Homo sapiens: one gene and its partners. The protein of the gene in region 1 interacts with the protein of each later gene in a biochemical or structural test. Each region holds a gene or a part of one and is shown in the gene's direction. Other genes may lie near its edges.

What was found. Proteins that work in one complex are often made in the same cells at the same time.
Region 2: of the proteins of EIF5A (region 1) and SENP1, one has a biochemical effect on the other in vitro, tested with the Homo sapiens proteins (one study listed by BioGRID).
Region 3: the proteins of EIF5A (region 1) and XPO4 form a complex in vitro, tested with the Homo sapiens proteins (one study listed by BioGRID).

The regions. Positions count from the first base shown.
Region 1 is NC_000017.11:7,303,580-7,310,637, forward strand, and holds the start of EIF5A (eukaryotic translation initiation factor 5A-1), read left to right. Parts: upstream 1-4,048; 5' UTR 4,049-4,173; intron 4,174-4,389; exon of another isoform or gene 4,390-4,554; intron 4,555-4,793; exon of another isoform or gene 4,794-4,996; intron 4,997-5,391; exon of another isoform or gene 5,392-5,536; intron 5,537-6,035; coding exon of another isoform or gene 6,036-6,056; coding exon 6,057-6,221; coding exon of another isoform or gene 6,222-6,708; exon of another isoform or gene 6,709-7,058. UniProt on the Homo sapiens protein: Translation factor that promotes translation elongation and termination, particularly upon ribosome stalling at specific amino acid sequence contexts.
Region 2 is NC_000012.12:48,061,069-48,068,091, reverse strand, and holds part of SENP1 (sentrin-specific protease 1), read left to right. Parts: intron 1-1,126; coding exon 1,127-1,165; intron 1,166-2,411; coding exon 2,412-2,496; intron 2,497-2,871; coding exon 2,872-3,027; intron 3,028-4,250; coding exon 4,251-4,382; intron 4,383-7,023. UniProt on the Homo sapiens protein: Protease that catalyzes two essential functions in the SUMO pathway.
Region 3 is NC_000013.11:20,899,736-20,907,458, reverse strand, and holds the start of XPO4 (exportin-4), read left to right. Parts: upstream 1-4,712; 5' UTR 4,713-4,720; coding exon 4,721-4,789; intron 4,790-7,723. UniProt on the Homo sapiens protein: Mediates the nuclear export of proteins (cargos), such as EIF5A, SMAD3 and isoform M2 of PKM (PKM2). In the nucleus binds cooperatively to its cargo and to the GTPase Ran in its active GTP-bound form.

The DNA.
Region 1 (7,058 bases):
GGCGTGGTGGCAGGTGCCTGTAATCCCAGCTACTCAGGAGGCCGAGGCAGGAGAATCGCTTGAACCCGAGAGGCGGAGGTTGCAGTGAGCTAGATCGTGCCACTGCACTCCAGCTCGAGTGACAGGGCAAGAATCCGTCTCAAAAAAAAAAAAAAGTAATAATGTTGCTTTGAACATTTATGTACAACATTTCTGTTTTTTTCTTTTCTTCTTTTTTTTTTTTTGACAGGGTTTTACTCTGTTACCCAGGCTGGAGTGCAGTGGTGTGATCACAGCTCACTACAGCCTTGAACTCCTAAGCTCAGGCAATCCTCCTGCTTCAGCCTCCCCAGTAGCTGGGACTACATGTACATATGACCACGCCTGGTTAATTTTTGTGTGTGTGTGATGGAGTTTTGCTCTTGTTGCCCAGGCTGGAGCACAACGGCATGATCTCGGCTCATTGCAACCTCTGCTTCAAGCTATTCTCCTGCCTCAGCCTCCTGAGTAGCTGGGATTACAGGCATGCGCCACCACACTAGGCTAATTTTGTATTTTTAGTAGAGATGGGGTTTCTCCATGTTGGTCAGGCTGGTCTCAAACTCCCGACCTCAGGTGATCCACCCGTCTCAGCCTCCCAAAGTGTTGGGATTGCAGGCGTGAGCCACTGCGCCCGGCTATTCTAGATGTTTTCTAAGAGTGGAATCATAGAATATGTGACCTTTTGCATCTTGACTTTTTTCACTTAGCATAATGTTTTCCAATATTCATCCAGTTATAGCACGTACTTCATCTCTTTTTATGGCTAAATAATATTCCACTGTATAGATATACCACATTTTAAAAATCCATTCATCTATTGACAGACATTTGGGTTCTTTCCACCTTTTTTGCTACTGTGAATAACTGCTGCTAATGAACACTCACATGCCCGGATTTGCTTTTTTTTTTTTTTGAGATGGAGTCTTGCTCTGTTGCCCAGGCTGGAGTGCAGTGGCGAGATCTCAGCTCACTGCAAGCTCCACCTCCCAGGTTTGCCATTCTCCTGCCTCAGCCTCCCAAATAGCTGGGATTACAGGCGCCCACAACCAGGCCCGGCTAATTTTTTTATTTTTAGTAGAGGCGGGGTGTCACCGTGTTAGCCAGGATGGTCTCCATCTCCCGACCTCATGAGCCGCCCGCCTCGGCCTCCCAAAGTGCTGGGATTACAGGCGTGAGCCACCGCACCCGGCCCGGATTTTCTTTGAGTACCTGTTTTTAATTCATTGGGAGTATATATACGTTGGAGTGGAATTGCTGGGTCACATGAACAATACATACTTTGCTTTGAGAAAAGCAGGTGTTGGACTTTTGAACAATGTACTCACAAAGTTGTTTGCGTTTTTTTGTTTTTGTTTTTGTTTTTTTTTTTTACAAAGGAAAGGGCATGAATTTCAGAAAATTGAGGGGAAGTAGCTGGGGGTTAGCATAACAGGCTACACAAATGTAGTAATTCAATCTAGTGTTTGCAGTTCACATGTATCGTGTCACAAGACTTTTTTTTTTTCTTTTTTAAGAAACAGGTTCTCTGTTGCCCAGGCTCAAGTGCAGTGGTGGGGATTATAGCTCAATGAAGCCTCGAACTCCTAGACTCAAGCTATCCCTCCACCTCAGCCTCCCAAGAAAGAGTAGCTAGGTCTACAGGCACCAGCCACTGAGCTGAGCTTTTCTTGTTTTTGTTTTTTTAATTTTTTATTTGTAGAGATGGGCCGTTGTTATGTTGCCCAGTCTGGTCTGTAACTGCTAGCCTCACGGGAGCCTCCCACCTTGACCTCCCAAAAAGCTAAGACTACAGGTATGAGCCACTATGCCCAACCCATGTTGCAGAATTTTTGCAACGTCCTGAAAAATTGGGAAGTTCAGGCATCATTATTATTCTCATTTTATGGGAAGAAAATTAAGGCAGAGCTATCTGAAGTAATTCCTTAAAGACACAAAAGAAGGATGAGATCCCAAGATCTTTGGTCGCTTGTTTCTGTCTTTTTTTTTTTTTTTTTTTTTTTGAGATGGCGTATTGCTCTGTCGTGCAGGCTGGAGTGCATTGGCGAGATCTCGGCTCACTGCAATCTCCACATTCTGGGTTCAAGCGATTCTCCTGCCTCAGCCTCCCGAGTAGCTGGGATTACAGGCACGCACCACCACGGCACGGCTAATTTTTGTATTTTTAGTGGGGACGGGGTTTCACCATGTTGGCCAGGTTGGTCTGGAACTCCTGACCCAAGTGATCTGCTCGCCTTGGCCTCCCAAAGTGCTGGGATTACAGGTGTGAGCCACTGCGCCTGGCCGCTTGTTTCAGTCTTGTTATCCAACAAGGCAGCCATGAAGGTAGTGCAAGAAACCCAGGAATTGGAAGAAGACTACGAAGTTTCAGGAAAAGCGAAATGGGGGGCGGAGAGAGGGAGGGCAAAGAAAATAAAGTTGGGAAGATAGCTCGTCTCCAGCTTCATGGTCTCCTATGATTAAGACAATGTCAATGTAATCTAACATACCACTTTTTTTTTTTTTTTTTTTTTTTTGAGACAGAGTCTCTCGCTGTGTCTCCTAGGCTGGAGTGCAGTGGTGCGATGTCGGCTAACTGCAACCTCCGCCTCCTGGGTTCAAGCGATTCTCCTGCCTCTGCCTCCCGAGTAGCTGGTACAGGCGCCCACCTCCACGCCCGGCTAATTTTTTTGTATTTTCAGTAGAGACGGGGGTTTCACTACGTTGGCCAGGCTGGTCTTGAACTCCTGACCTTGTGATCCGCCCGCCTCGGCCTCCCAAAGTGCTGGGATTACAGGCGTGAGCCACCGCTCCCGGCCTACCACTATTTTATTTTATTTATGTATTATTTATTTATGTTTTTGAGACTTGAGTTTCGCTCTTGTTACCCAGGCTGGAGTGCAATGGCGCAATCTCGGCTCACGGCAACCTCCACAGGAGAAGCGATTCTCCTGTCCCAGCCTCCCGAGTAGCTGGGATTACAGGCATGCGCCGCCACGCCCGGCTAATTTTGTATTTTTAGTAGAGACGGGGTTTCTCCATGTTGGTCAGGCTGGTCTCGAACTCCCGACCTCAGGTGATCCGCCCGCCTCGGCCTCCCAGAGTGCTGAGATTACAGGTGTCAGCCACCGCGCCCGGCCCACCACTCATTTTTATAGACAATTTTTTCTAAGGGACCTCGTAGACAATACTTTGGGGAACCGCAGAGCACAGTTGGGGAAAACACAGTAATACCATCTAAGTTTCTTTACTGAGGACCTCAGAGCCGAATGGCCTCTATGGATGCCATAGAGACCAATACGGACTGAGGGTTTAAAGAAGATGGTGTCCGCCGCAGGACCGCTCTATCTTCTCGGGTGAACTCTATGGCAGAGCATAGGCATTCGATTTAGAGAAGTGAAGCCGAGATGGGTGGGAACCCGACCACACTAGCGCGCTAGAAGAGTGGGGCGGAAAGACATCTCCCGCGCATGTGTGGAACTGGGGGGACTGATTCCAAGACAAGGCGCCCACCCCACAGAGCAAGTTTTCTGAAACGTGTGAGTCGTTTAAGTCCAGTTAAAGCCGAGGTGGGGCGTATCCTGAGACGCATGCGTTCTAGACGAGACAAGTGATCTAGCGGCGTGGTCTTTTCAACGCCTGGCGTACTGACGGCGTCTGAGGTGGAAGGGGTTGTTTAGGATTCCGAACACGCATGCGTTCTGAGACCCAGGCGTTTCCTTTAGAGGGTGTGGAGTGCAGGGCTCCTTATTGCGCAGGCGCAAGGACTGCCCGGTAGGACGAGCGGTCTATCAAGGGGAGGGAAGATGAGGTTGAAGAGATTAAAAAACCGGGTGCGCCTGCGCGTTGCAGATTAGTTGAAAACGCTCAGGGTTTGTGAGGGGCGGGGTCACGTATGCGCGTCATTGGACGGGTCGGTGGGAGGGAGGGTGGAGATGGGTAGGGTGTGTGCGCTTGCGCAGTGCGGGGGTGGAGGGCGGAGGAGATAGATAGCACGCTTGCGCGGCTGTCATAGGGCTGCTTGGTTGGTCAGTGGGGAGTCGGCGCCTGCGTACTAAGACCCGTGTGCAGCAGCGGCGGCGGCGGTAGAGGCGGCGGCGGCGGCGGCAGCGGGCTCGGAGGCAGCGGTTGGGCTCGCGGCGAGCGGACGGGGTCGAGTCAGTGCGTTCGCGCGAGGTGAGAGCGGGCAGGGCGCGTGTGCGCGGTACCTTGGCTTGGGCCCGGGAGAAGATGGAACTGCGCGGGGGTCGGGGAGGGGGCAGAGGGGAGCGGCGGCCGCCGCCGCACGGGTTCGGCCAGAGAGCGGCGCGAGGTGAGGAGAGGCGCGGGCGCGCGCCCCGGTTGGCGCGCGGGGTGACGGTTGGGGTTGGCCCGGTGACGTTGGAGCGACGCAGGGCGGGGGACGGCGAGCCGCGAGGCAGCCACGCGGGAGAGGCCGCCAGGCGGCCACGCCGGGGCGAGGGCCAGGGGCCAGATCGGCCCACCGGGGCAAGGGTACCTGGGCCGTTGAGGACCCGGCTCAGCGCGGCCACGTGAGGTGGGGGAGGGGGCTATTCGGTGAGAGGGCATGATGGGGGGGGTTGGCGGACGGCCGGGGGGAGGGGAGGCGGCGTGGCTCCGGCCTGGCGCAGTCTCTGAGGAGGGGGCGGCCGCGGCACCGGAAGTGCCCCCCACGGGAGGCTGCCCTCGGGGTCGCAGGCCGCATGGCCAAGCGTGGACCGGGGCCGCATGGCAGCGCGGGGACCCCTCCCCCCAGGTCCCGGCCACCGGAAGCCCGGAACGGCCACATGGTCGGCAGGAGCCGGCAGCCCCTAGCGCGGGGAGCTAGTCCTCGCGGGGGTTCCGAGGGGGCCTGAGATTTTGAGGAGTGGAAGCCGGAGGCTCGGGTCCTAATCACCCCGGAGGGCCTGCTGCAGGCATATGTTAGCGCTTCCCAACCTCAAGGGCCCCAGGAGCTTTCCTGAAAAACCCTCCTGTGAAGTGTGGCGGTCAGCCAGGTGTAAGTGGCACCCCTTCGAGCTGGGAGGCCGGAGAAATGGGGAAACAGGGCGTTTGGACAGGAGCCCAACTTTTCTGTCGGCCTGGGTGGACAGCGCCTAAAAGCCTCAGGCAGATGAGTTTCCCACCGTGATAGGCGTTCTTCACCTTGTCACTGTCTTCCTGTTGTAACTGGTTTGGGAGTTCCACGGTTTCGAAGTCCTTAACTCTACTAGCCTAGTATGATTTTCTACTACTCACTACTACCAACCTTTTGCTTTCATTTTATTGTCATTCACCACCCCCCACCTCTCCCACTTTCTACTGACTGTACTGGCCCGGCCTGAAAAGCCGACAGGACAGATGCATCCTGGGAAAAGTGGGAGGGCCTTCCAGGAGAGGCTGGGTTCCTGGGTTCTCTTTGGGAACCAAGATCGAGGTGTTTGGCAGGGGGATCATTTCGGAAACAACTTTGCTTTCTCCCCCTTGGCTTGTTGCAAGTGCATGTTGGCGAGGCGGGAATCCCCCAAAGAGGCCTTGTGGTTTCCTGTAGCAGTGACTGGTTTGTGTGTGGATGGGGGGGGGCAGTGTAACAGATGGGTGGGGCCTTGTCCTCCGGTCTCCACCCTCCCCCCCCCCAATTAGCCCTGCCCTTTTGCTGGATCATAGCTGCTCACCTAATTATAGCCCTGGCTATATGTGGGGAAGAGGGGTGGTTGGTTTCAGTGGCAAGTAACACCTGAGTCCTCCCCACTCCCAGGAAGTAGGCCTTTTCTCATCTCTGAGATTTGACATTCCAGCTCCCTAGAGCCTTCCTTTCCCAAGCCACCACTTTAGCTTTGATTTATGGGGGAGAAACCAGCTATTCCACCCTCCCATACACACACCAGTTCTTGAGTATATTTGAGCCCAGTCAGTATTTTAAGTTCAGGAACTTTGACTTTATTTTAGGTGGGTAATGGAATAAAGAGTTGGGAAAATGTTTCTGGAGAGAAATGGGATAGATTGGAGGTCCTGTTGACCTCCATGCTTATTCACTTCAGTTCTCTTCTTGGCTCTAGTTGGAATCGAAGCCTCTTAAAATGGCAGATGACTTGGACTTCGAGACAGGAGATGCAGGGGCCTCAGCCACCTTCCCAATGCAGTGCTCAGCATTACGTAAGAATGGCTTTGTGGTGCTCAAAGGCCGGCCATGTAAGATCGTCGAGATGTCTACTTCGAAGACTGGCAAGCACGGCCACGCCAAGGTTAGAATTTCACCTCCGCATCTTGCCTTCCCCATGCCTCCAGTATCTTTGGCGCTCCCAGCAGCAAGCTGCCAACAGTGCTGACTTTCCTTTAACTCTGCTTTTACTGTCTGATTGTTTTTGTTTAGCGCTCAGCCTTCATACCCATTCAGACAACTACACCTGCTCCCCAGTCTTCAGCCTCTTCTGTGGTTACCCTTCTGTCCCCGCATCATTCTCTGGCAGTCCCTCCGTTTCTCCAGCTTTGTGCCAATCTCTTCAATTCATAGGCCTTTATGCTCTAGCTATTCAGTTGCTCCTTCCTTATTCTTGGTTTTCACTTTTTCTTTCTTCCCTTGAGCCGTTGTTAAGTGGTTGCTTCCATCACGTTGCCCAGGGTTTCTCCAATTCTACGCCTTCCCCTGGAGGGACTCCTGCGTCAATTCTGAGCTTTCAGGTCACCTTGCTGCTTCGTTCCCCAGTTCTAGCTTTCCCTTTGGAACTCTGACGCAGGATCAAACTGCCCCTACCTGCCCCATCCCACTCTCCTTGGGTTCCTTGAGCCTCCATGCTTTCATGGGTTTTAACATTCTTGCTAGCACTTCCCTCATCACCTCAGACTTTTCCTGTCTCTTTAGAATTTCAACCTGATTCGTTCTTGTTGAATTTCTTGTGGTGTTTTTCCTTAATCAGTTTTTCCATCTTTTGACTTGACATTGATCTTGGATTATTCTCTAGTGTCTGGATCCCTCTCTGTGCTCTTCTGGCTTCCTTATTTTCTAGCTACATAGTTATTTCTGATCTCCCTGCAAGTCCTTTTCTTCAGCTCTTTCACATTTCTTAGTTTCTTATCCTTTC
Region 2 (7,023 bases), on another chromosome or scaffold:
GACCAGCCTGGCCAACATGGTGAAACCTCGTCTCTACTAAAATAAAAATAAAAAAAAGAAAAAATTAGCCAGGTGTGGTGGCGGGTGCCTGTAATCCCAGCTACTCAGGAGGCTGAGGCAGGAGAATCTCTTGAACCCGAGAGGTGGAGGTTGCAGTGAGCCGAGATTGTGCCACTGTACTCCAGCCTGGGCAACAGAGTGAGAGTCAAAAAACAAACAAACAACACTAAATGCCTACTCTGTGCCAAGCACTATTCTAGTTGCAGATCATTTTTTTTTTTTTAAGAGACAGAATCTCACTATGTTGCCCAGGCTGGTCTTGAACTCTTGGCTCAAGCGATTCTCCCACCTCAGCGTCCTAAAGCACTGGGATTACAGGAATGAGCCACCATGCCTGGCCTCTGATCCAGGTCTCTTAACTCCCAATTTGATGCTCTGTTTACTTGTTCTCTATATTTAATAGTTTTCTTTGGAAAAGTGTTCACTCTTCTTCTTTGTGTTTCTGTGATAGATCCTGCCTAGTTAGGAGTTTGGAGATAAGGAAGTTTGAGAAAAACAAGAGGCTCTAGGACAATTAATCATGTCTGTGGCTCTGCTCAGCATATCACTTGGGTTGTCAGCAGAGCCACATGGACCTAGAATTGGCCTGTCATCTTTGGAAGGAAGTTGTGTTGCTGATTCTCTGCTTTGGCTCATTGGCTTGTTAGCCATTTGATGTAGATTATTTTGTGTGTGGGGATTTTTAATAAATCTTTCAATCTGAGTCATTTGGGAAGAGCAATGTTCTAGCTTAATGTATTATTTTGAGAAGTGATGTCCTCTTTCACGTAATGTTGGTCTCATGCAAGTAGGGAGCTATGCCAAATGTAGTATCTCTGCTGAACTTTGGGTCACCTTTTTAACTAATATGTATCCATATGATTTTAACTAATATGTATGCATAAGGATTGTGTCTCCTTAATTCCTAGTTACAATTATTTTATGTCATTTAGATTCCTTTTACTTATTCCATACTTGTAAAGCACTCATATAAACAATTTAAATGATTGTTTTTATTGATGAAAATATTTTAATTTTCTCATAAGCCTCCTGCTCATTTGTCAAATTTTTCTTTTCCTACCCATAGTTCTACTTTCTTCCAGGCAGAGCTGTGGATCAAAGAATTGTAAGTTATTTTTGGTATCATTTTTCCTTCTCAATCAGTTCATTTTTAGTTAGAAGAAATCAAACAATTAGCTAATCATCCTGCTTATTTTTTGCCAATAAGAAGTACCTGTTTAGGCTGGGCGCGGTGGCTCACGCCTGTAATTCCAGCATTTTGGGAGGCTGAGGCAGGTGGATCATCTGAGGTCAGGAGTTCAAGACCAGCCTGGCCTTCATGGTGAAACCTCATCTCTACTAAAAATACAAAAATTGGCTGGGCATGGTGGCACGCGCCTGTAATCCTAGCTACTTGGAAGGCTGAGGCGGGAGGATTGCTTGAACCTGGGAGGTGGAGGTTGCAGTGAGCCGAGATCACGCCACTGCACTCCAGCCTGGGCAACAGAGTAAGACTCCATCTCAAAAAAAAAAAAAAAGAAGTGCCTGTTTATACTTTTAAGTTGTTGGGTTTTCAAAATATTGTTGGAGTTGGAACATTTCTATACTTATGTTTATTAAATCTATAACAATTGTTGAAGCTAAATTAAATTGGAAAAATAGAGTTAGCTATTATATAATAGGGAAAATAAATGATCCTATTTTGGCATTTGTAAAACTAATTTATTGAATAATTCATATTTCTGGACTTTGCAAAATCACTGAAAGCATTTAGTCTCACTTAAGGAACTTAAGTTATCCAAACCCCTCGGTCTCGGTAATTTTTTAAAAATCTATCAAAAATGAAGTATTTGAATTAAACTTCAGTGATATCTTGTATTCGTTTCTCCTTTAGGGTTCAATCCCATTTTTGGATTTCCAGACTGAAGTTTCGCTTTCACTATAATCTTAAAAGCATGTTAAGAAAAGAACTGTGTGTTTACAAATGTTAACAAGTCATCTGTTCACATTTAGCAGCACACTAATATTTTTAGTAATTTCAGTAAAAATAGGTCGGGTGCAATGGCTCACATCTGTAATCCTAGCACTTTGAGAGGCCAAGGTAGGGGGGTCGCTTGAGCCCAGGAGTTTGAGACTAGCCCGGGCACTGTAGTGAGACCCTATCTCTATAAAAAATAATAAGTAAAAATGGTAGAGTAATTTCAGTAACATTATGTGGTTTCACTCTATGTCTTAAAATAAGGATGATAAGTTAGTGTAAGGATTTTAGACTTTCTTTGTGAGGGTCCTGTATTTAATATTCAGTGTACATCAACAATATGTTTCATAATGAGAGTGGTCTACATTTGGTCACGTTCCTTTTCATTTTCTAGAACTAGTGTTTATGATTCTCGAGCACGAGAAAGATTGCGCCAGATTGAAGAACAGAAGGCATTGGCCTTACAGCTTCAAAACCAGGTAAAAAAGAAAATTGGAATAATATTACAAATAAATAGTACATCAAAGTAGAAACTATTTTGGAAAGTTACCCAGATTTGGGTAATTGCTGTTGTAATTCCAAGATCGTATGGTAGCATAGCATGTTATGATATGTCGTAAATGTTCTTGGTCTGTCCAGTCAGTGCTACTCATTGTACATAAGACAAATATAGATAGTCCCCTACTTGTGATGGTTCGACTAATGATTTTTTGACTTTACAAAAAAGCGAAAGCAATGGGCATTTAAGCACGCTCTTTGACTTATGACAGGTTTATTGGGACATAACCCTATCATAAATCAAGGAACATCCACAGATTTCTTTATCCCACTTACTCTGAAGTTTTATCTTTCAGAGATTGCAGGAGCGGGAACATTCAGTACATGATTCAGTAGAACTACATCTTCGTGTACCTCTTGAAAAGGAGATTCCTGTTACTGTTGTCCAAGAAACACAAAAAAAAGGTCATAAATTAACTGATAGTGAAGATGAATTTCCTGAAATTACAGAGGTAAGTTACATACACTTAATTTCTACACTACTAAGTATCATGTTTAGAAAGAATCCCTCGGATGAGTTTCAAACATAAAAGCAATAGTGGTCAGGCACGGTGGCTCACGCCTGTAATCCCATCACTTTGGGAGACTGAAGCGGGTGGATCACTTGAGGTTAGGAGTTCGAGACCAGCCTGGCCAACATGGTAAAACCCCATCTCTACCAAAAATACAAAAATTAGCTGGGTGTGGTGGCATGCACCTGTAATCCCAGCTACACAGGAGGCTGAGGCAGGAGAATTGCTTGAACCCGGGAGGCAGAGGTTGCAGTGAGCCGAGATCATGCCACCGTACTTCAGCCTGGGTGACAGAGCAAGACTCCATCTCACATACACACACACACAAAAAGCCATAGAACACGTGTTATTTAAATTTTCTTGTATATTTCAGCTTTCGCTTATTTTATATACCAATCTGGGCTTTATTTTTAAAATATTGAAAATTTATGAAAGAACTATGGGTGGCTTTTAACAGTTTCAGTGAAGAAGCATTTAATACATTTGTCTTTCATGTCATGTGCATTTTTACTTAATGCACACATACAATAGTTTGACCTCAAATTGTAAGCTGAGATTTGCTCTTTTTTTAAGTAATAAAACCCATTATAGAAAATTTGGAAAATACATGGAGGTCTGTGTACATTTTTAGATAATCCGTTTCTTTATCCATACTTCTCTTTGAAACACTACCATGTAGCTGGTGAGCATAACACACTTATTATAGTTGTACTGAATTCCATACTTTACATTTAAAAAAAAAGATCTCTAAGAAAGTAATTTCTAAAAGATACTGCCTTTACTCTCTTACTACCTTTTATGAAAAATTCTGTTTCTCAGGAAGTCATTTGGACCAGAGATATAAAATACAGTTAATTTTTCTCATGTGCTTAGAAAATTTGATAGCGGAAGGTTGTTCCAGACTTTAGGAATTAATATGGAAACAAGGATCTGAATGTTGTGCTGAAAAAGAGAAGGGAGGACTAGATGAAGTGGAAAGAAGTAATCGGGGATTACTGGGAAGGAATAGAAACCAAAATGTTAGAAGTAAACTGATTAACAGTAAATTTATAAACAATCGAATGGTGATAAATATAGTCTGAGGATTATATGGGGTTTGGTGAGAAATACGGTTTTTCTGAAGCCACGCGTGTTTGATGTCTTGACACCTTTTGTTTTCTTAGGAAATGGAGAAAGAAATAAAGAATGTATTTCGTAATGGGAATCAGGATGAAGTTCTCAGTGAAGCATTTCGCCTGACCATTACACGCAAAGATATTCAAACTCTAAACCATCTGAATTGGCTCAATGATGAGGTAATGTTGCATCTATTTTTACATACAAATAGTAAACATTAAGTGGCAGTTAAATTAAGGCATTATCTCACTTTTTCTCAAAATGTGGTCCATGGATGACCTGCATTGGAATCATCTCTCATAGGCCTCTTCATTCTTGTAACTATGAGGGAGTGTGGTGGAGACAGGCATTTTTAACAAACATCTCAGGTGTATTTTAAAGTCTGAGAACCACTGAATTTACCTTTTCTTGTTGAAGATTTGAACATTGAAGAAGACATTCACTCATTGGTATTCTCACTCTTTAAGGCTCCTATTCTGCAGTTCATCTCTTCTGAACAAATAAGTATTAGCCGACCATGTTGCAGCATGAGGGAATACTGTGGGATTTCTTTATAGGAATCCAGTTTTACTTCCCTTTCTACCTAAGTTCTACTCATTTTAGATCACTTATATTACGAATGACAAGCTTTCCAAAATCGCCTCCATTTATGTATGATATTTTTTAAATGGACATTGAAAAAGTTATATTATTATTAAATATTTGAGGTATTGGGGGAGAAGTTACGGTCTTCACCTCCTAACTCCAATTTATTTTAAGTATATTAATTACACTACAGTTTTTAAACTGATCTGTTCCTAAGCCTAAACCTGTAGGTACCTGTTTTATTTTAGAAGGTTATTTTTACAGCAAAAGAAAACTGGGTTGGGTATCTTTTCCTAAGTACCTTCTTTGCATAAGCATCCCTGGCTAATCTGGGTATACTCAAGCTTCACAGCTGTGGAGGATTTTTAGTTTCTCAGTGTAGTAATCATTAAATATTTTAGATATCCATATCCTGTTTTTGTATGATCAAGACCTTCCAAATAATATTTGCCAATAACTATTGATCATTTACCTCATTAGTACGATTCATGTTTTATGTGTTTTATTCTTGTAATAGTCATCATATCTTTGGAAGTAGATATGATAGTTCACCATTCTGCAGATAAAGAAACAAGGCATAGAAAGATTTAAAAACTTGCAAGGTTATACAGCTAGTAAACAGCAGAGCCAAGATTAAGACCCAAGCATTGGGTCTTATCTACTATATCTTAACTACCTCAGAATCTTAAATTGGATACTGGTCTTAGGATCAGATATATAGAACTTAGGAGCCATATATCATGTCCAGGATGCTTTTTTTCTCTGGGGCCAGCCCCATTCTTTTTGCCACTGGTTGGTTTATAAGATAAAAATTTCAGAAGCTCATCACTCCCTGAATAATATCTGTGACCAAGAATAATAAGGAAGGCATGGTTTGTTACTGTCTTTCTTTAGAAGAAACCCTCTTTGCCTCTTTTGGCTCAGATATTAGAACATTGGTTCAAATAATGGAAAAAAAGAGCTCACCAAATCAAAGGAGGAAATTAAATCAAGGATAGTTATAAGTATCCACTGATAAGTTATTTTTGATCTGTGGTCCTTTGCCATTTATTTCCTGCCATTGCTGGTGGTGCGAGGTCAGTTACTCTAAAGGGATAGTAGGCTTTAGTTTGTTGTAAATCATGGAAAACCTCCTAGAGGGCAGCAATCAGTAGGATATGAGCTGAGTTCTTGCTATTTACTGTGGCATTTACCTCAGTGAGATTCCTTACAGAGACAGCATTCATCAGGACATATTTTCCATTCCCTGGGCCCATCAGAGGCTGGATTTTTAGCAAGCTAAGTTAATGGAAATTACATTATTTTAGAGGAGATGAGAAGAAGGAAAGATTCTTTGTCTACTTTATCCCTACCACCCCTAGCCATAACTTTTGTAGAAGGAGTGCATTTCTTCTCAGTTCAGAATGATGTTATCCTTGAAAATGAGTGCCAGTTCACATGTCCATAATAATGATGGGAGCTATCTTAAAAAGCACCATTTTCAAAGTACCATACTTCGTAGGCTTTCAAAGTTACTGCCCTTGAGAAGCTAACATCCTGATGGAGTATTATTAGGTATCCTTAAGTATTGATACTCATTGAAGAATACTTAATTTTGGCCAGACACAGTGGGTCATGCCTATAATCCCAGTGCCTTGGATGGCTAAGGTGAGAGGATCACCTGAGGCCAGGAGTTCAAGAGCAGCCTGGGCAACATAGCAAGACCCGATCTCTACAAAAAAATTAAAAATTAGCCAGCCATGGTGGCATATGCCTGTAGTCCCAGCTGTTCAGGAGGCTGAAGCAGGAGGATTGCTTGAGTTTAGGAGTTTGAGTTTATAGTGAGCTATGACTGAGCCACTGTACTCTAGACTGGGTGACAGAGCAAGACTCTGTGTCTTCAAAAGAATACAAAACTTAATTCTGTTTCTCAGTTGTGAACTATCAGTCTTTTGCAAATGATTTGTCCTCTGTTCAATCCTCTTCTTCCCTCAAGTAGATATTTTCATTAATAATAATTTCTCTTCTTTTTCTGTTTCCTGCTTTATAAGATGTATTAAAACTTTCTCCAAAATAGGTGACTGATACATTGTTCTTATCATTTTATAAACAAAGTACCATACTTTGTAGGCTTTCAGAGTTAAAAAGTAATATAAGAGCAAGGAAGTAAAAGGAATCAGATTCAGTTTATAAGGAAAATAAAATCCAGAAATCCTATGTTTGGGATATGTATGGAAAGCCATTAGGATACCCTGT
Region 3 (7,723 bases), on another chromosome or scaffold:
ACTCAGGAGGCGGAGGCAGGGGAATCGCTTGAACCCGGGTGGCGGAGGTTGCAGTGAGCCGAGACCACACCACTGCACTCCAGCCTGGGTGGCAGAGTGAGACTCCGTATCAAAAAATAAATAAATAAATAAACAAAAATTAGCCAAACGCGGTGGTATGCACCTGTAGTCCCAGCTACTTGGGAGACTGAGACAGGAGAATCACTTGACCCTGGGAGGCAGAGGTTGCAGTGAGCCAAGATTGCGCCACTGCACTCCAGCCTGGCAACAGAGGGAGATTCCGTCTCAAAAAAAAAAAAAAAAAAAAAAGCGTATGACAAGGCTGCAATTACCCTCTCCACCTCTGCCCCAGGAGAGTGTTGTTATTGAATAATAAATCAAGGAATAACAAGAGTCAGGCATTGGAGGAAAGTTAACTGATAGGCAAATTCTAGGGTGTTTTCCAACATTGAGATCCTACAATTTCAGCTCTGCCCTGAAATTCATGGCTTCATTATGTGAGATGTCTATACCTCACTTCATAAAGTCTCAAAATTCAAAATACTGTTAATTTGAAAGGAAGCAAATTAATCCTCACATTTGATAAAAATATATCCCTTCCCTTTTATTTTTATTTTCATTTATTTATTTATTTTTTGAGATGGAGTCTCTGTCGCCCAGGCTGGAGTACAGTGGTGCGATCTCGGTTCACTGCAACCTCTGCCTTCTGGGTTCAAGTGATTCTCCTGTCTCAGCCTCCCGAGTAGCTGGGACTACAGGCGCCCGCCACCACGCCTGGCTAATTTTTTAGTAGAGACGGGGTTTCACCGTGTTAGCCAGGATGGTCTTGAACTCCCAAACTCAGGTGATCCACCCGCCTCGGCCTCCCAAAGTGCTGGGATTACAGGCGTGAGCCACTGTGCCTGGCCTTTTTTTTTTTTTTTTGAGATGTAGTCTCACTCCGTCACCCAGGCTGGAGTGCAGTGGTGCAATCTCAGCTCACTACAACCTCCGCCTCCCGGGTTCAAGCGATTCTCCTGCCTCAGCCTCCTGAGTAGCTGGGATTACAGGCACGCACCACCATGCCTGGCTAAATTTTGTACTTAATAGAGATGGAGTTTTACCGCATTGGCCAGGCTGGTCTTGAACTCCTGACCTCAAGTGATCCACCTGCCTTGGCCTCCGGAAGTTCTGGGATTACAGGCACGAGCCACTGCACCTGGCCTATTTTTTGTTTGTTTGTGTTTAGAGGCAGGGTCTCACTTTGTGGTCCGGGCTGGAGTGTAGTGGCACAATCACAGCTCACTACAGCCTCTATCTCCCTGGCTCAAGTGATCCTCCCACCTCAGCCTCCTGAGTCACTGGGACCATAGGCATGCACCACCACACTTGGCAAATTTTTTAATTTTTATTGTTTTGTAGAGATGGGGTCTCGCTATGTTGCCCAGGCTGGTCTTGAACTCCTGGGCTCAAGCAATCCTCCTGCCTTAGCCTCACAAAGTGCTGGGATTACAGGCGAGAGCCACCGCATCCAACACTTCTTTCTTTTCTTTCTTTTTTTTTTTTTGAGATGGAGTCTCTCTCTGTTGCCCAGGCTGCAGTGCAGTGGCACAATCTCAGCTCACTGCAACCTCTGGCTCCCAGGTTCAAGCGATTCCCCTGCCTCAGCCTCCTGAGTAGCTGAGATTACAGTCCTGTGCCACCTCGCCTGGCTAATTTTTAGTGGAGACAGGGTTTCACCATGTTGGCCAGGCTGGTCTTGAATGCCTGCCCTCAAGTGATCTGCCTGCCTTGGCCTCCCAAAGTGTTGGGATTACAGGCATGAGCCACTGCGCCTGGCCTTCTCTTTTTTTTTGAGATGGAGTTTCACTCTTGTTGCCCAGGCTGGAGTGCAGTGGCGCGATCTTGGCTCTCCGCAACCTCCGCCTCCTGGGTTCAAGTGATTCTCCTGCCTCAGCTTCCCGAGTAGCTGGGATTACAGGCATGTGCCACCACACCTGGCTAATTTTGTATTTTTTTTTTTTTTTTTAGTAGACATGGGGTTTCTCCATGTTGGTCAAGCTGGTCTCAAACTCCTGATCTCAGGTGATCCGCCCACCTGGGCCTCCCAAAGTGCTGGGATTACACACGTAAGCCACTGCACCTGGCCCTCTTTCTTAAAACACGTGTAGTTGCAAAGTTCTAATGTAATTGCACAAAATAAATACTTTGGAACCCAAGGCCCAATCTGAAGCATTATAAGCCTCAAACATTTACTGTCACAAACTGTTTATCTACATATTTGCACAATATCATTGATCTTTGGTAATTACTCTTTGCAGCAACTAGAATCATTTTGTAATTTTCTTGTAGATTGCTATACTTGGTCAAATATTTACTGAGTGCCTACTATATGTCAGGCCCTATGATAAACACTTAGTTACTAAAAAGGACCATTAACTGCATTTTGGCTCACTTTAAACTTCAGTAATAAAATAAAACTTACTTAGTTTCTCAAGCAATACAAACCTTGTTAATTCATTTTCTCTACTTCAAGTTGCAGAGACTTCAAGTACAAGAAACAACATATTTTCCAACGGAGCTAATAATGCAGTTCCGTGTGGCCGGGCACAGTGGCTCATGCCTGTAATCCCAGCATTTTGGGAGGCTGAGGCAGCGGATCGCCTAAGGTCAGGAGTTCAAGACCAGCCTGGCTAACATGGTGAAACCCCGTCTCTGCTAAAAATACAAAAATTAGCCAGGTGTAGTGGTGCACACCTGTAATCCCAGCTACTCTGGAGGCTGAAGCACGAGAATCGTTTGAACCCAGGAGGCAGAGGTTGCAGTGAGCTGAGATGGCACCATGGCACTCCAGCCTGGGTGACAGAGAGAGACTCCATAACACACACACACACACACACACACACACACACACACACACACACACACACAGACATTCTGTTGCAGTGACATAAAACCTCAACAGTATGGCTTTCTTATAACTAGGAATAAGAAACAGGAAGATTTCAACAAAAAATAAACTTAAAAATACTGAAACGAATTTGACTGTCTGTGTTGTTTCAGAAGGCTGAATAAGCACCAAAAAGAAGTTATAGGAATGTAGACCGTAGATGTCAGCTCAAAACGAAACAAACCCCTGATCCGAACAACCTAACAGCACTGGTTTGAATACTGAAACAGCTGTCAGGACCACTTGCGTGGAATGTCCTAGAGGCAACTGGAGCACCGGAGGGAAGGTTAATTACTTGATACTCTAATATGCCTTTCAACACGGATTCCACAAACACGACAATGCTGATTTTTGTCCTTTTTTTTTTTTTTCCTGAGACAGGATCAGCCTCTCACCCAGGCTGGAGTGCCGTGGTGTGATCTCGCCCCACTGCACTCTCGACCTCCTGGGCAATCCTTCCGCTTCAGCCTCCCGAGAAGCTCGGACCACAGGCGCAAGACACCACACCGGGCTTTTTTTTTTTTTTTTTTTGGTAGAGACAGGGTCTCACGATGTTGCCCAGGCTGGTCTCGAACTCCTGAGCTAAAATGAGGCCTGCCTTGGCCTCCCAAAGTGCTGGGATTACAGGCATGAGCCACAGCGCCTGGCCGACAAAGCTCATCTTACTGCATTTGAGAAGCCAGGTAGTCAAGGTCAGGCTTTCCTGTCCCTGCTTTCTCCCTCTCCTATGTGAGCCAGCCCTTAAAGAGTGAAAACGGCAAGAGCCAAAGACGGGTTTTCCTCCTAGGGTCTCCTAGCGACCCGCTGCCCAGATACATTTGGATGATTGTCCTGCAGAAGGCCAAAGCCCTCCATTATGAAAACGAAGCGTTCGGCCGGGGGCGGTGGCTCACGCCTGTAATCCCAGAACTTTGGGAGACCGAGGCGGGCGGATCACCTGAGGTCAGGAGTTCGAGACCAGCCTGGCCAACATGGTGAAACTTCGTCTCTACTAAAAGTACAAAAATTAGCCGGGCGTGGTGGCGGGCGCCTGTAATCCCAGATACTCAGGAGGCTGAGGCAGGGGAATCGCTTGAACCCGGGAGACGGAGGTTGCAGTGAGCCGAAATAGGGCCATTGCACTCCATCCTGGGCGATAGAGTGAGACCCTGTCTCCAAAAAAAAAAAAAAAGAAAGAAAGAAAACGAAGCGTTCTATCCTGGAATGTTCTCCCATGGCAAGAAGGAACAGAGAAGCAGGAGACAGAGATACTTTGAAAGGAGGTGCGCTCTGAGGAGGGGAAAGCGGGAAGAGCGATTCCAAGTTTAGGAAATCCTGCACGGCGCTGGAGCGTGGAAGGGCAAGGAGGAGCCAGGGGAGGCGGTGTGCAGGGCTGAGAACGGAGGGAGCGAACTGGCGTCGTGGATCTGCGGGTCCCCGGGCGGGCTGTACTAGGGTAGTGGGGAGAGGGCCGGGGGCACCGCGAGGCCGGGGCGCCGGACACCACGCATGCGCGGGGCTGGGAGCTTAGCGGGGCGCGCGGCTGCAGCAGTCTGGGCAGACCGCCTCGGCCTCGCCCGGTGCCGGCTGCGGCCGCCCCCGCCCCAGCGCGGCGGCCGGGCTCACACTAGTCCCCTCCCAGCCACCCGGAACCCGGCAGCCCGGCCAGACCCGCCGAGGCCGCGACGCCGGTGTCGACAGCGGCTGCGACGGCCCTGGGAGCGCGTGAGGCTCCGGGGTCGCGGCGGCGATTGGCCGGCCGCGGCGCCCGCTCCCAGAATGCAGCGCATGGCGCGTCATTGAAGAGAGACCATGATGGCGGCGGCGCTGGGGCCCCCAGAAGTGATCGCTCAGCTGGAGAACGCGGCTAAAGTTCTGATGGTGAGGACGCCGCGCCCCTCAGACCCCGGGATTCGCGGGCCCCCGGTCGGCCCTGCCACTCCAGGCCTTGCTGCTCGCTGGGCTGGCGACTGGCAAGGGCCTGCAGGGAGCCTGGAAGTGGAGGAGGAGGTGGCGGTGGCGTGGCGCAGGATTCTTCAGCCTACTTTCCTCCTGCCGTCGTCCCCTCCTTCCAGGAGCTGTCCCCTTCCCCTGGCTGCCCAGCACCCCAGTCGGGCGTGGGAATATAGTGGTGTAGCAAAGAGAATTTCTTCACCTTACACCCTGCCCCACAGACTGGGTCGCAGAGCAAGGCGCCGGGAAGGAGTTGGGGTTATCCCCGCAGGGCTTCGGTAGGGGAAATTTGTAGGGCTGTGTGAGCGCTCTTGGGGAGTTGGTGTCGGGAGGGATTGGATGGCACAGCCTGGGTGCTGTTAGCAACCCTTGTTTCCTGTGCATTCGCATCCTCTAGCGCTTCCCTGACATGCAGCCACCTCTGGAGTAATTGCAGCCGGCAGCACGTGGAAGGGCCGGGCCGGCTGGAGGGAGGGAGGGGAATCGTTGAGACCAAGGTCATTGGGGCAAAACTTGGTCTAGTGCTAAGCTCCTTAAAGCTCCCGCGATTTGGAGAACTGAGTCTATGCTACTCTTTGACTTCATGCTTACACTACAATAAGCAGTTTGATGAGATTGTTTACTAAGGGAATTTGAGAAGGCCGAGTCAAAGGATAAAAGTATTACATGCAAGGAGGAGAAGTAAGGATAAACTACGTTCAGTTAGTAAACAGTGTTTCTATTTGCTGGCTCAGCTTTGTTTTTGCAAATTATGACTTCGGTGTTTGTAGATGTTTTGGGAAGTTAGAGGTTCATTTGATACCTGGATTGATTCAGACTTTCTAAGAATTGGATACAGCCAGCTTTGTTACCTTTTTGGACTTTTTTCCTTTTGGTTTGGTGTTAGGGTGTTTGAGCATCACATTTGAGAATATTCGAACTAATTCTAGCGTAGTTTGTAGTTCTAATATTTTACACCAGATATTTTTGTTTCTTTAGAAATCGAGAAGTCTAATAAAAGCAGGATTTACTTGCTTCATTATGAATATTAACTTAATGTACGTTTTGTCACAAAACAGACTAGTGAAGGTTTTCACACTTTTGCAAATTAAGCAGAAGTAACTAGCTAGTATTCCCCTTAATAAAAGATTCTTAAAAATCCCTGACATAGAGCGTTTTGTAAAATTCCTGAAATTTTCCTAGGAGCTAGGGGCTCCGTTTTCATTGGATTCTGGAAGGAGTATGCCACCCAAAACACGGCTGTAGTTCTTACACTGATCAGGTAAAATCAGTGTCCTTCGTCACTGGCTTAATATAAACTAGTATTTGTGTTTTCCAATATCTTCCCTCTTCCCTGGCAAAGCTGCTTTTATCCCCTATAAGGAGTAGGTGAGAAGAATAGTAGTAAGTACCGTTTATTGAGTGCTAGATATTGGGCTTGATGCTTTACATACTTTACATATTTTATTAATTCTTGCAACAGCTTTGCTTTACAAGGTTGAGAAACTGTAAGTGGCCCGGGTTACACGATTACTAAATGGCTGAATTAGGTCTTGAACTCAGTTCTGTCTGGCTCTAAAGCTGTGTGTCTTTCCACTCTACCCCATCTGTCATATGTTGTATAAATAATTTGTCTAAATGCTTTTTATCTTTTCAGAGGAGAGTAGTATTGAAAAAAGTGTCATGTTATTAAAAACAGGAAATTACAGCCGGGTGCGGTGGCTCATTCCTGTAATCCCAGCACTTTGGGAGGCCGAGGTGGGCGGATCACTAAAGATTAGGAGCCCAAGACCAGGCTGGCCAACACGGTGAAGCCCCATCTCTACTAAAAATATAAAAATTAGCCGGGCGTGATGGCTGGCACCTTTAATCTCAGCTACTCTGGAGGCGAAGACAGGAGAATCGCTTGAACCAGGAGGCAGAGGTTGGAGTGAGCCGAGATCGTGCTGCTGCACTCCAGTCTGGGCGACAGAGTGAGACTTCATCTCAAAAAAAAAAAAAGGAAATGACTTTTTGGAAATTTCCACTTAAGTATTCAGAAATTTGTACCAAAGATGTGTAGAGTAGTTATTGTATTATTTCTTAATATGAAAGCTATATTCCAAATTATTAATAGCTACCATTTATTGAGTACATACTATGTTGGAGGCGCTGTGCCAAGCCCTTTACATATATTACTTTTTATCTCCAGTAACTCTGTGAGGTAGGTATTATTACTTTCATCTTCTTTTTTTTTTGACCAAGTCTCACTCTGTTGCCCAGGCTGGAGTGCAGTGGCACGATCTTGGCTCACTGCCACCTCCGCCTCCCGGGTTCAAGCGATTCTCCTGCCTCAGCCTCCCGAGTAGCTGGGACTACAGGTATGTACCACCACACCCAGCTAATTTTGTATTTTTAATAGAGACAGGGTTTCACCATGTTGGCCAGGCTGGTCTCGAACTCCTGACCTCGTGATCCACCTGCCTCGGCCTCCCAAAGTGCTTGGATTACAGGCGTGAGCCACTGCACCTGGCGTGTTACTTTCGTTTTCATTTTACAGGCTAAGGAAACTCCAACATGTAGATGCTAAGTAATCTACACAAATTTACATAGCAAGGGGTAGAGACTCAAACTCTGGTTTGTCTGTTACCAGTCTGTGGTTCTTAAGCTGTAGGATACTGGGACCAGAAAGGAGGTAAATTAATTCATCTTTGGCTAATTAAGGTTGTTAATGCTCCGTCAATTATTAAGCATTAAGCTACATATTTTAAACAGAGTGATCTTAGCATTTATCCATCTGTGGGTCTGAATATATCTTATGGAAAATTGCTGTATTTTAACTGTTAATATGCTTTGAGATTCAAAATGCAAATAGTGATGTATTTCATAATTATTTTTGCTTAA